Homo sapiens: one gene and its partner. The protein of the gene in region 2 binds, or shares a complex with, the protein of the main gene of each other region. Each region holds a gene or a part of one and is shown on either strand. Other genes may lie near its edges. A codon is read from its position in the direction of its gene.

The links. Proteins that work in one complex are often made in the same cells at the same time.
Region 1: the proteins of RMC1 (region 2) and CCZ1B are in contact, whole or in part, in a cryo-EM structure (PDB 9L0D), measured with the Homo sapiens proteins. Residues at the interface, in NP_037458.3 of Homo sapiens: Arg403, Ala404, Ser405, Leu406, Pro407, Lys477, Phe478, Ala481, Met484, Glu485, Ile487, Arg488, Asn491, Gln492, Tyr516, Met517, His519, Gln520, Phe521, Gln523, Tyr524, His525, Val526, Ser528, Tyr544, Pro546, Gln549, Leu552, Asp553, Lys556; in NP_932765.1 of Homo sapiens: Phe195, Phe196, Pro197, Leu198, Lys200, Met201, Tyr203, Leu204, Lys205, Gln207, Ser208, Asn211, Arg212, Glu214, Glu215, Val220, Lys221, Leu231, Ile232, Trp233, Ser234 (codon at 5,592), Leu236 (codon at 5,586), Glu237 (codon at 5,583), Gln238 (codon at 5,580), Met384, Asn385, Asp426, Asp445, Arg446, Arg447.

Annotation. Positions count from the first base shown.
Region 1 is NC_000007.14:6,809,253-6,816,275, forward strand, and holds part of CCZ1B (vacuolar fusion protein CCZ1 homolog B), read right to left. Parts: intron 5,594-7,023; coding exon 5,512-5,593; intron 3,786-5,511; coding exon 3,724-3,785; intron 2,812-3,723; coding exon 2,700-2,811; intron 1-2,699.
Region 2 is NC_000018.10:23,513,506-23,520,528, forward strand, and holds part of RMC1 (regulator of MON1-CCZ1 complex), read left to right. Parts: intron 1-2,350; coding exon 2,351-2,491; intron 2,492-2,814; coding exon 2,815-2,918; intron 2,919-5,384; coding exon 5,385-5,474; intron 5,475-5,563; coding exon 5,564-5,669; intron 5,670-6,696; coding exon 6,697-6,808; intron 6,809-7,023. UniProt on the Homo sapiens protein: Component of the CCZ1-MON1 RAB7A guanine exchange factor (GEF). Acts as a positive regulator of CCZ1-MON1A/B function necessary for endosomal/autophagic flux and efficient RAB7A localization.

The DNA of each region.
Region 1 (7,023 bases), on a different chromosome or scaffold from region 2:
AGAAGTGAGGATGGTCTTGGAGACTCATGAACTTTGCAACTAGAAATCACTGAACTGTACATTTTAAGTGTAGGAGGGTGAGTTGTATGGTACGTGCATTGTATCTCAAAGTCATTAAGAAAAAGGTAAGGACCCTTTAACATAGCCACAACCCCATCATCACACCCCACAATATGTCTGTAGATTGACTCTAAAAATAGAAATGCAGCCGACAGCATATTACACACCAGGGTTATGGAGATTTCAGTCATTACCTGGGTCATTCAAAGGAGGATGATTTTTTTCTTGAGATGGGGTCTCAAACTTTCACTCGATACACAAACGGACATTCTTCCTACTCCAATTCCTGCTCTGAATTACACCTCCAACATTTTGGTTTGCTTTTTCAGACCACATCTTTCTGTATGCTCTGCCTGCAATCTCCCCTTCCCTGCCAGTCTGTCACAGCCCAACTTTAAGTGACTCTCAAGCACACCATGTGATGAATGAAACATCTTTTTATCTTGGCGGCTTGAACCCTAGAGCCCTCCCTCCTCCTGCTGTCACGGAGCTGCTGGAGGTGGGGTGCCGCCAGCAGACCTGAAGAGCCTTATCACCCCAAGATTTCCTTGTACCGTCTCACACATGAGAACTACTGTTCTGGATTCCCAAGTGTTCCTTCTTGGTGTGCTCACTTATTCTGCTGACGGATGACCCTGTGTAACACCCTCAGGAAGGGTGCATGACGGTAAACTTTTTGAGGCTTTTCATGTTGAACGTGTTTTTTTTTTTCTTTCTGAGACAGAGTCTTGCTCTGTTGCCCAGACTGGAGCACAGTGGCGTAAGCTCAGCTCACTGCAACCTCCGCCTCGCGGGTACAAGTGATTCTCCTGCCTCAGCCTCCGGAGTAGCTGGGATTAGAGGCGTGCGCCACCTCACCTGGCTGATTTTTTGTATTTTTAGTAGAGACAGGGTTTCCCCATGTTGGCCAGGCTGGTCTCGAACTCCAGACCTCAGGTGATCCGCCCACCTTGGCCTCCCAAAGTGCTGGGATTATAGGCGTGAGCCACCATGCCCCGGCTAATGTCTTTCTTTTGTCTTATCTGTGGTTGACAGCTTGGCATGGCAAAGAACTCTATGCTCAAATTCATTTTCTCTCAGAACTTTGAAAGTCTCTCTTCCACTGTCACATAATGTCTGGTGCTGGATATGAAACTGTTGATACCAGTTTCATTATTTTTGAGAGGGTTTCACTCTGTCACCCAGGCTAGAATGCAGTGGTGTGATCATAGCTCATTACATCCTCCAACTCTTGGGCTCAAGCGGTTCTCCTGCCTCAGCCTCCTGAGTAGCTGGGACTACACATGAGCACTGCCATGCCTGGCTAATTTTTAAACATTTTCCTGTCGACACAGGGTCTTACTATGTTGCCCAGGCTGGCCTCCAACTCCTGGCCTCAAGTGATCCTCCCACCTTGGCCTCCCAAAGTGCTGGGACTGCACCTGGCCCATTTCAATTTTATATTAATAGATACAACTCTTCTAATTAGTGGATACTAATTTTTAAAGTTCTCGTCTGTCCTCGGAATCATGTTTCTTTCGAGACCTCTAGTTTTGTTTTTGCAGCCATATTTAACAATGAGGGAACCAGAAGGCTGACCAGAGATGGAGGCTTCACTCTGAGTGTAGGATGAAGGTCTCAGTTCTGTCTGGAAGAAAGAAATGCCAGAATGAGCAGGGCCTCATTCTCAGGGGCAGACATCCACGTTAGCCACTCTGGGTCTCTTCAGACTGTTTCCTTTCTTTAAACAGACCCTCGATTGTCACCCAGGGATGGATGCTCAGCCGTGGGCCTGTCTGTGCAAGGATGGGGGAAGGGGAGGCTGACTGGCCTCTCTGCCACACTTCACTTCCCTTCCCCACCTTTCCAGGCCCAGGCCCCACTCTGACTCCTCAGGTGACCTCCTCCAAGTCAGGAGCCTCTCTGGGCTTCCACAGGGCTGTGGGTCCTTGCCTTAGCACAGGGTTGCCACTCATATTCCAGGCCTGCTCCGGCACCGCCCTCTATCAGGCATGGTTTACAAGTCCCGTCTACCTTCCAGAGAGGGACAGGACTCCCTCATCCTGACACATCCCGCTCCTTCCTGTTCCCCCACGGCATCATTTCTGAGCCTTTATAAATGAAAACTTCTCCACAGCCTCAGGCAGGAAAGAGGATAAACACGTGCACATGCTCCGTCTTCTTTCTTGAATCAAAAACTGCCTTTAATTAGAAACACAACCTGAGTACATATCCTTACAAGACCATGTCCTGACAGAAACAAAATACGATCCTTATGGAATTAGCAAGCCTACAGCTTTAAAATCAGAGCAAAAGCAGCATATGCACAGACACGTGGCTACGGCCCCCATCCAGAGCCATTTCGAGAACAGGCAGCACCAACCTCTGACAGCCTTTGGTTTGAGAGCACGTGAGACTTCACACGTTTATAAATCACAATCTTAAACAGTTCCTCTTTCACTAATAACAGAACTGTTTAAAAGGAGCTGAAAATAAACTTATTACGCTGGAAGAACACCCATTTTGAGTTTTACCATAATCAGAACTTCCAATATCTTTTCCAAGAAACATTTAAGAGGTTTGCACATGCACTCGTGTACACATGCAAGAAAGATCCATTTCAGCACAATCATTAACGCTGGAAGGAAAACAGTTGTTACCTTATAAACGATTAAATGGAGCTCTTCATAAGTGTCATCTGTATTTACAAAAATTTTGGGGAATCTGCATTTTGCATCTGGATCATTGAGGTTCAAGGGTCCGGTAAGAAATCTTAAAAGCAAGAACAGACATGACTTGATTCAACGAGGTGAAGGAGAATCAGGAATCTAGAAACAGAACACACTCCCACTTCATACACACCAGTTGCTTTTGATGCCAGCTGCTATTTGGCAAACACCATATCAGAATAGGCCGGCTGGGCGTGGTGGCTCATGCCTGTAATCCCAGCACTTTGGGAGGCTGAGCTGGGTGGATCACCTGAAGTCAGGAGTTCAAGGGCAGCCTGGCCAACATGGCAAAACCTCATCTCTACTAAAACTACAAAAATTAGCTGGTTCTGGTGGTGGGCACCTGCAATCCCAGCTACTAGAGAGGCTGAGGCAGGGGAATTGCTTGAACCCAGGAGATGGAGGCTGCAGTGAGCTGAGATCGTGCCACTGTACTCCACACTCCAGCCTGAGCGACAGAGAGACACTCCATCTCAAAAAAAAAAAAAAAAAAAAAAAAAGGGTATGCTGAAGTAAGTTTTAACTCATTGGAAACAACAAACTTTCCTTTGTTGATTACTGTCAATCAGATGGCACAAAGATATTTCAATGTCCATATTATCTTTACCAAAAAGATAATAGGCCAGGCATGGTGGATCACACCTGTAATCCCAGCACTTTGGGAGGCCAAGGCAGGTGGATCACTTGAAGTCAGGAGTTCAAGACCAGCCTGGCCAACATGATGAAACCCTGTTTCTACTAAAAATACAAAATGAATTAGCCAGGCATAGTGGCTCATGCCTGTAGTTCCAGCTACTTGGGAGGCTGAGGCATGAGAATCACTTGAGCCCGGGGAGGCAGAGGTTGCAGTGAGCGGAGATCTTGCCACTGCTCTCCAGCCTGGGTAACAGAGCCAGACTCTGAGTCAAAAAAGAAAGAAAACCCAGTATCATAAATCAAAGAACAGAAGTCCTACCTTCCATAGTGTTGAAGATTTCCTGGCATTTCTGCTCTTATTGGAGAATCCCTTCCTGCTAACTGCAAATACATTTAATGTTGAGAATGACTTATCAGACTTTTTATTTATTTTCCAAGCTTTGAAAAACAGCATTATCTACTAATTGGTTCCATGCCATTTGTCTTTTTCTTTTAGAGACAGGATCTTGTTCTGTTGCCCAGGCTGGAATGCATGCAGCATGATCATGGCTCACTATAGCCTTGAACTCCTAGGCTCAAGCAACCCTCCCACCTCAGCCTCCTGATAGAGGCATGTGTGACCAAACCTGGCTAGTTTTTAAATTTTTGGCCAGGTGAGGTGGCTCACGCCTATAATCCCAGCACTTTGGGAGGCCAAGGCAGGCAGATTACTTGAGCCCAGGAGTTTGAGAACAGCCTGGGCAACATGACGAGATCCCATCTCTACAAAAAATTAACCAGGTGTGGTGGCACACACCTGTAGTCTCAGCTACTTGGGAGGCTGAGGTGACAGGACCGCTTGAGCCCAAGAGTTTGAGACCATCCGAGTCAACAAAGTGAGACCTCATCTCTTAAAAAAAATATTGGAGAGCGGGAGGACAAGAGGGAGGGAATGAACAAGCGAAGAGAGTGAGTTCAACTGAGCCAAAATGATTTTTGTGTGTTAAGCTCTGAAAATACTTTGGGGAGAACACAGTGATATCATTTAAAAGTTCTCTGCAGGAAACCAGGAAATTAAGTACTAGAGTGGAAAGCCAGGTAGGCACTAAAACATCTACTGAAAATTAGGTCTCCTGTTGATAGAGGAAAATACTACACAGGTTGATTGTTTTAAAGATCACTGGCATTTTAAAGGTTTCTAGAACCCAACCTAAAATCCAATTTTTTTGGCCAGGAGCAGTAGCTCACGCCTGTAATCCCAGCACTTTGGGAAGCTGACGCAGGTCAATCACCTGAGGTCAGGAGTTCGAGACCAGCCTGGCCAACATGGTGAAACTCCATCTCTACTAAAAATATAAAAATTAGCCAGGCATGGTGGCAGGTGCCTATAATCTCAGCTACTTGGGAGCCTGAGGCCGGAGAATTGTTTGAATCCAGGAAGCGGAAGTTGCAGTGAGCTGAGATTAAACCACTGCACTCCAGCCTGGGCGAAAAGAACGAAACTCTGTCCCAATAAATAAATAAATAAATAAATAAAATAAAATACATAAATTAAAAGTAAAATAAAATCCAATTTTCCTCTACTCAATGACTCACTCCTCTTAAAAACATGCTTTGTGGACTGGGGGCAGTGGCTCACGCCTGTAATCCTAGCACTTTGGGAGGCCAAGGTGGGCAGATCACAAGGTCAGGAGTTCGAGACCAGCCTGGCCAACATAGTGAAACCTGTCTCTACTAAAAATACAAAAAAATTAGCTGGGCGTGGTGGCGGGCGCCTGTAATCCCAGGTACTAGGGAGGCCGAGGCAAGGAGAATTGCTTGAACCTCTCCATCCCAGGTGAAAGTTCGAGACTCCGTCTCAAAAACCAAACAAACAAAAACACACACAAAAAAACCAACACACAGACACACAAAACGATGCTTTCTGTATCACATCTGAATGTCACATACTGGAGGAGAGCTGCATGTGGTTTTCTGTGCTAATTGATATACAGTGACATAAATAACACACTAAGACAAAACATACATCAGAAACGATCAGAAACACCCCCATGCACCACCATCTCACTCCACCTGCCCTCTCTGTGCCCCTGCATGTAATTGTGTGCAGCTATGGTACCCATCATACCTCAGGTTCGATGTGCCTTGGGAAAAGGGAGGTGGTAAGGTATTTGTATAAAATTCTCATGTCATCTTGTTCTAATCCACTCCTGCAACAACAGAAAAGCACTGGGTTAAACGTTTCGAACTGTCTTCTGTCTTTCCACTGCTGTGATAAAGCTCATTAAACAAAAATTTTTTTTTCAAGTCATTTTTAGTAACACAGAATAAATTCTAACTTTTTAAAGTTTAAAGCTACTTAAAACTCAAAGCAATCTATTTTTCTACCTGAGATCAAAATGAGTTTCCTTTTTCCTAAACATAATTCTTAGCATTGAGGTAAATCTGAATTTACGTGGTATACTTTGTCAAACTTTTCCAAAGAATTTGAAGCCCTGGATAAAGCTCATTTTTTATTAAAAAAAAATTTTTTTTTCTTTTTTTTTTTTGAGACAAGGTCTTGCTCTGTCACCCAGGCTGGAAGCAGTGGTGCGATCATGGCTCACTGCAGCCTTGGCCTCCAGGGCTCAAGCGGTCCTCCCATCTCAGCCTCCAGACTAGCTGGGACTACAGGCATGCGCCACCATCAGCTAATTTTTGTATTTTATGTAGAGATGGGGGTCTTGCTACGTTGCCAGGCTGGTTTCGAACTCCTGGACTCAAGCAGTGCTCCCGCCTCAGCCTCCTAAAGTGCTGGGATTACATATGTGAGCCACTGTGCCTGGTCTCATCTTTTTTCATTTTTCAAGAGATGAGTCTCGTCTGTCGCCCAGGCTGGATTACAGTGGTGTGACCACAGCTTGCTGCAGCCACCGATTCCCAGGCTCAAGCAAACCTCCCACCTCAGCCTCCTGAGTAGCTGGGACAACTGGTGCTTTTTTCTTTAACATTATATCAAGAGGCTCACCACCTGACCGCGAAGTTAAGGAAGGTAAAGAGTTAAACTTCAGCCCAGGCACTGGAACTTTATCCTGACCTGCAAAAGGCTACTCCTACAGTCCTGTATTTTACATGCCATTTGAGATGAAAAAAAAAGTCACAAGGGATTGGACTCGCTGGTTGAATTCCGTGTAGGATTATGCAGGAAACCTCCAAAGCCACACTGTTTCATTTTAGGAGCAGATGTCTCTTAGCTTCCTGGGTTATATGGTAATGCCACATTCTCTCCCCTAGTCCCCTGGGAAAATATGGGTATGCTGTAGACAGGGAACGTGATCCTAGGTCTCAGAAATGTACATGGATTTTAATTCTCCGGATCTTCGGTGAAGAAAGAGGAGGAAGAGAAAAACAAGCTTTCAGGCAAACCATCTGATCTGAAATGAGGCAGGAAGGAGCAGCACATGGAAAAAGCACAGAGAAACTAGCAGGTATCAGACTCTGGAACCGGTTTTTTAAAAGGAGACAGACAATGAGGCTGGATCTGGGCGTTTTCTATTCAAGATCACTGAAATACCGTGAAGGTGGTCGGGCGCGGAAGCTCACACCTGTAATCCCAGCACTTGGGGAAGCCAAGGTGAGCAGATCACCTAAGGTCAGGGAT
Region 2 (7,023 bases):
GGTATGCAGATACCGCTTCAAGATCCCGTTTTCAGTTCTTTTAGATTTATACCCAGAGTGAGATTGCTGGAGCAGATGGTAGTTCTGTTTCTGAATATTTTAGGGAACCGCTATACTGTTTTCCATAGCAGTTACACCATTTTGCAATCCCTCCAAGTGTACAAGGGTCCCAGTTTCTCCATATCCTCACCAACACTTGCTGTTTTGTTTTGTTTTGTTTTTGATACTAGCCATCTTAATTGTGGTTTTGATTTGCGCTCTTTGTTGATTAGTGATGTTGAGCACTTTTGTGTGTGTGTTTTGGCCACTTTGTGTATCATCTTTGGAGAAATGACTAATTCGGGTCATTGTGCCTATTTTTAAAATCAAATTACTATTATTTGTTGAATTGTAGTTCTTTATATATTCTGATATTAACACCTTCTTAGAGATACAATTTGCAAGTATTTTCTCCGAATCCGGAGGTTGCCTTTCCACTCTGTGGATTGTGTCCTTTGATGTACCTGCCTGTTTCTTTTCATCTGTTCCAGCTTCCTGACCTATTAAGCATGCTTCTGAGATCTCTAAGGGGAACTAATTTAGAGGGTGTTAAGAGTTCTTTCAGGTTTTAATTTTGTTGACCTAATGAAAGTCATATAATTTAGAATGTATGGTTAGAGAAAATACACCTGTGTGTTAATGCCATGGTGCTTTGCTGTAAGGCCATCATCGAAATCTTAGTAATGACTGGCTGGGCACGGTGGCTCATGCCTGTAATCCTAGCACTTTGGGAGGCCGAGGTGGGCGATCATCTGAGGTCAGGAGTTCGAGACCAGCCTGGCCGCCATGGCGAAACCCCGTCTCTATTAAACTCCATCTTTACTAAGTGCCGTCTCTACTGTCTCAAAATAAAAATACAAAAATTAGCTGGGTGTGGTGGTGGGCGCCTATAATCCCAGTTACTTGGGAGGCTGAGGCAGAAGAATCCCTTGAACGTGGGAGGTGGAGGTTGCGGTGAGCCGAGATTGTGCCACTGCACTCCAGCCTGGGCAACAAGAGTGAAACTCCGTCTCAAAAAAAAAAAAAATTTGTAATGACCAATAGGAGAACTTTAAACAAACTTTAGACAAATTCCATACACACAGAAATAGAATTTTGTACATGTGATTGCATGGGAAGGATGGCTTGCTTTCTGGGGGAGTTCCCTATGGTAATCATTTAAAAGTCTGTCTTTCTGTTCTCTGCAGTGGGAAAGTATACCTTAAGGTTACCTAGATGGCTTCAGATCTTCAAGAAAAAAGTTAAAAAGAAAGAAGACTCTAGCACATCCTAATTATTATAGTTCTTAAGAAGCTTACGGCTCCTGCCCCTGACTTGCGCAGCAGTTCTTCAGTGCAGTGTACCATGAGCATTAATGTCTTGGGGGCTCTGTACAGTGTTCTGTAATATCGGAATATTTAGGGTACATTGAAAATGTGCCTGGATTATAAAGTACTGCATTTGTATGGAGTCTTATGAACACATCTGCTAGAAGAAGGGAGCTCCTCCCAGGCCCAGTGTAGACTGGAGTCGAGGTGGAGGCCAAGCAGAAGGCAGATCTGCCATGGTCTGGGAGGTGGCCGAGTTAACACATGGGGTCCTGGAGGTGTCAGTTTCTTTTGGCCGTTTCCTGGATGAGGAGAAATTTGTTGTAAATTGCTCTTAGGTGTATCCATGTGCTCCACATGCCCAGGCATGTGGAGGCACAGATAAGGATTTTGGAGGGAAACAGCCTACCCAGGCTATAATTGCTTTGTTAAGGGGCAGGTTCCCTAATCCACTCTTGGAGCCTTGTTTCTCATCTGGCTAATAGGGCCAGTGATGCCTGCCTCTCAGTCGTGGCAAAGAGTAAATGAGTTAGGAGGCTCTGTAAAGCACCAAGCATAGGGCTGGTTAAGTAGTAGCTGTAATAAGTACAAGTGAGAATGTTCATTTCACTTAGTGGGTTTCTTCTGCTTTTTATTCTCAGAGCGCACTGTAAGGATCTTCTGACAGTTTGCTGTTATTGATTTATTTATTAATTGAGACTGAATCTCGCTCTGTCACTCACGCTGGAGTGTGATGGTGCAATCTTGACTCACTGCAACCTCTGCCTCCTGGGTTCATTCAAGCAATTCTTGTGCCTCAGCCTTCTGAGTAGCTGGAATTACAGGCATGTGCCACCACGCCTGGCTAATTTTTGTATTTTTAGTAGAGATGGGGTTTTACCATTTTGTCCAGGCTGGTCTCGAACTCCTGACCTCAGGTGATCCGCCCACCTTAGCCTCCCAAAGTGCTGGGATTAGTTTGCCGTTTTTTAAATGAAGATCCTGTTTCTTAAACTCTGCTTCAGGTATTACCAGAGAAACGGAGTCTGAAACTCTTGAAGAGCCACAATCTCAATGTGAATTGGTACATGTACTGCCCCGAGAGCGCCGTGATCTTGCTGTCTACCACGGTCCTGGAGAATGTCCTGCAGCCTTTTCACTTTAGGGTAAGAGGAAGCCTCCCCTGAAAAAAACACCTTTCCCCAGTTGTCCCCTGTTCCTGTAGCATCCTAATGTGTCAGGCACGTTAGGGACAGGTTCCTCTAGCCGTAACGTCACCGCTCTGACCACTAGAGGGCACTCTGTATACCCGTCAGCTCCTGGAGCCATTCATTCTATGCTGGGCAGACAGGCTGTGAGAGGACATGGGGGACGGTGGAAAGGATCCAAAGACGAAGTCTGTGTTTATCCTTGTTGGTTTTACACAGGGAATGATGAAACATTGAAGGGGTTTAATAAGCTTTTCCTAAAACATTTTCCCCCTAAACAGGCTGGCACTATGTCGAAGCTGCCCAAATTTGAGATTGAATTACCAGCTGCGCCTAAGTCAACTAAACCCAGCCTTTCCGAAAGAGACATCGCAATGGCTACCATGTATGTCCGTGTCAGAGAGAATTCCATCCTGTGATTGCTTTCAGTAATATAAATAATAGAAGGAGTGTGTTACAAGCACCACGTGATGCCCTGACCCCTAGAACACATAAGGAGGACTCCCCTTGTTCTGGGTATTCAGTGTATAGGTCCTGTGAACATAGAAAACCTGCAGTGTTTTTGGCATTCCTTTTTGATTTTTATCAGCTTTGTGATGCTAAGGAATTCCTTTACCTTTCTAGCCTGATAAAACAAGAACATTGAACCAATTTATTTCTTAGTATCTTTGTTTTAGAATTTCTTCTTCTTTTTTTTTTTTTTTCGAGACAGAGTCTTGTTCTGTCCCCTAGGCTGGAGTGCAGTGGTGCAGTGTCGGCTCACTGCAGCCTCCACCTCCCAGGCTCAAACGATTCTTCTGCTTCAGCCTCCCAAGTAGCTGGGATTACAAGTGTGCGTCACCTCGCCCGGCTAGTCTTTGTATTTTTGGTAGAGACAGGGCTTCACCATGTTGGCCAGGCTGGTCTCGAACTCCTGACCTCAAGTGATCCACCTGCCTTGGCTTCCCAAAGTGCTGGGATTACAGGCATGAGCCACTGTGCCTGGCCAAGTTTATTTTTTTTAAAAGCTCAGTTAAATAATAATTGTTCTAAATAAGAAAATAGATTAAGATTTTATGTAACAGACATGGAACTAAATTACGTATATATAGAGGTATATTTTCTTTTACTTTTTTTTTTTGTTTGTTTTTGTGATGGAGTCTTGCTCTGTTGCCAGGCTGGAGTACAGTGGCACGATCTTGGCTCACTGCAACCTCCGCCTCCCAGGTTCAAGCGATTCTCCTGCCTCAGCCTCCCGAGTAGCTGGGACTACAGGTGCGTGCCACCATGCCCAACTAATTTTTGTATTTTTAGTAGAGACAGGGTTTCACCATGTTGGCCAGGGTGGTCTCGGTCTCTTGACCTCTTGATCTGCCCTCCTCAGCCTCCCAAAGTGTTGGGATTACAGGCGTGAGCCACCACGCCTGGCAGTACGGAGGTATATTTTCATTTGAAAAAGTGGATATCTCAGTTTTTAAATTTGTAATGAAAATTTTAAACACACAATAGAGACTAATAAAAAAGAACCCCTGTATGCCTGTATCTGATTCGACAATAGTCAAAATTTTGCTTCTAAGTTACTTCTGATTCTTCTGTGGCCTAAAACAGTGGCCCAAACTTTCAAACTTTATGGTAGTTAGTATAATGTTCTTTCATTTCTTCTTCCTTTTTTTTTAAACGTACTCTTCTGTGGCATTCCTGTTTATTTTTAAATTTTTTTTGGAGAGTGTCGCTCTGTTGCCCAGGCTGGAGTGCAGTGTTACAATCTCAGCTCACCACAACCTCCGCCTTCTAGGTTCAAGTGATTTTCCTGCCACAGTCTCCCAAGTAGCTGGGACTACAGGCGCATGCCACCACATCTGGATAATTTTTGTATTTTCTGAAGAGATGGAGTTTCACCATGTTGCCCAGGCTGGTCTTGAACTCCTGGGCTCGGGTGATCCTCCCGCCTCATCCTCCCAAAGTGCTGGGTTTATAGGCATGAGCCGCCGTGCCCAGCCAGCATTCCTGTTTAGACAATAGATAAAGTGAGAGCAGTCCTGGCTGAAGTGGAGGTGGGGACCTGTTCCCTCCCACCTTGGTCTCCTCCTTGTCCCTGGGCAGGCCCAGCACAGAGTTTACCACTGGACTAGAATATGCATTCAGGAACTGTTCACAGCAACATTTATTAGATGGCACTTAAATAGAAAAGGCTGAGCATGGTGGCACACACCTGTAATACCAGTGACTGGGGAGGCCAAGGCAGGGGGATCGCCTTGAGGCCAGGAGTTCAAGACCAGCCCGGGCAACATAGTGAGACCCTGTTTCTACAAAAAAATTTAAAAATTAGCCAGGCACGGTGGCACGTGCATGTAGTCCTAGCTACTGGGGAGGCTGAGGTGAGGGAAGATCGCCAAAGCCTAGGAGGTGGAGGTTGCAGTGAGCTGTGGTTGCACCACTGCATTCCAGCCTGGGTGACAGAGGGAGACCCTGTCTCTGAAAAATGAAAAAAAAAAATAGTGATTATATTTTCCTGTTATTAAGGAATATACATTCATTATACAAAACTTGGAAAACAGAGAAGAAAATGAACTTAGCATATCACTCAAGTATAACTATTACATGTGTTTCTTTCCAATCATTTTAGACTCTATGCTTAGGTTTGGGGTTTTCTTTTAAAATATTATGATCAAGCTGTGTTTAGTGTGTGTTCTCTTTTCCACTTAACTTTATAATAGGCTTTGAGTAACTGCATGTTTCTTTGTAAACACTTGTTGGCAGCAAAATACTCCATTAAGTGAATATCTTATAATTTACTTAACCGTGATGCCATTTAGAACAAAGGAATTTTGAATGGCCAGATGTGATTTATGTCTGTTTGTTCCCTAATTAGATACGGGCAGCTGTATGTTCTCTTCTTGAGGCATCATTCTCGGACCTCCAACAGCACAGGAGCGGAGGTGGTCCTCTATCATCTACCACGGTAGATTTCATGCTTTGTTTTCCCTCTCTCTCTGATTTTAAAATGTGAACTGCAGCTTGTTGATCTGTTTTTTGCTTTCTATCCTACAGAGAAGGTGCCTGTAAAAAGATGCACATATTGAAGTTAAATAGGACGGGAAAGTTTGCCCTGAACGTGGTGGACAACCTGGTAGTCGTGCATCATCAGGATACAGAGGTACAAGCTGTCTGCGTTTCTACCAAAGTTAAGGTTGCTTAAAAGCCTTGTGAAAATTGGTGGCTGGGCACGGTGGATCACGCCTGTAATCCCAGCACTTTGGGAGGCCAAGGCGGACAGATTGCTTGAGCCCAGGAGTTCGAGACCAGCCTGAGCAGCATGGCAAAACCCCACCTATATAAAAAATACAAAAATTAGCCGGGCGTGGTAGTGCACGCCTATAGTCCCAGCTACTTGTGGGGCTAAGGCTGGAGGATGGCTTGAGCCCAGGAGGTCGGGGCTTCAGTGAGTGGAGATCGCGCCACTGCACTCCAGCCTGGGTGATGGAGCAAGATCCTGTCTCCGAAAAAAAAAAAAAATTGGCAAAATGTCTGAATAAGACTAGAAAGTGCATTTTTATGCTAAGAGTTTTGGTCTTCCAGATGGAAATGGGTTTGGTAGTCTCAAGTAGTTTAGAAAAAAGTGATTGTGTCAGTTGATTAAAGATAATTCAAAACTATTTCAGAAACTAACGCTTGAGATTTGACCTTGGAAGAAGGTGGGAATCCGCTCCATTCCACGAGTACTTGAACTCTCTGTTGCAATTGTGAGCATGGATGACAGTGCTGGGGGATAATGGTTTTGAGGCCGTGTGGACCAGGACAACTAGAATGGGTCCTGTGGGCTGGGCCTCTGATATAAAGAAGCTGCTTACCTCCTCTACCCTCCCAGAGGGTGGTGACGCTAACTCTGTGACACGTGAGGATGTTTCCAGTTGAAATGACAGAGATCTGCTTAGGTCACTTTGAGTGAGCTCATCAAAGGAAGCATGTCATAAATGCAGGAAATACTTGTGAGAGGAGATAAAAATATTAAAAGAGAGTTGTGATGTTAATGACAAATTCCTTCTCAAGTAAGAGCTAGCCTGTAGGGAGGAAATGCAAACACAGGCTTTTAAACTGATTTAAACAGCAAGATGGGATGGAATGAAAGCAACTGGGCAAACCATGATTGATTTTGGCCTCAGTCTTGTCTTTTTCCCCCCCAGACATCGGTAATATTCGATATCAAGTTACGGGGAGAGTTTGACGGCTCCGTTACCTTCCACCACCCCGTGCTTCCCGCTCGATCGATCCAGCCCTATCAGATCCCCATCACAGGTAACACGGGTTCTGTAGAGGAGTCTGTGCTGCCCTTTCACCATGTGGCTGTGTTCTCACCATGATCTTTGGGAGTCACGTTAAAAGTGGAGTGAGGAATAAACAGAGATTCCCAGATCTGTCTGATTTTGCCAGGGGCCATTTGTTCCAGTTTTGTTGTTGTTTTGAGACAGTCTCACTGAGTCACCCAGGCTGGTAGGTAGTGTCGTGATCTT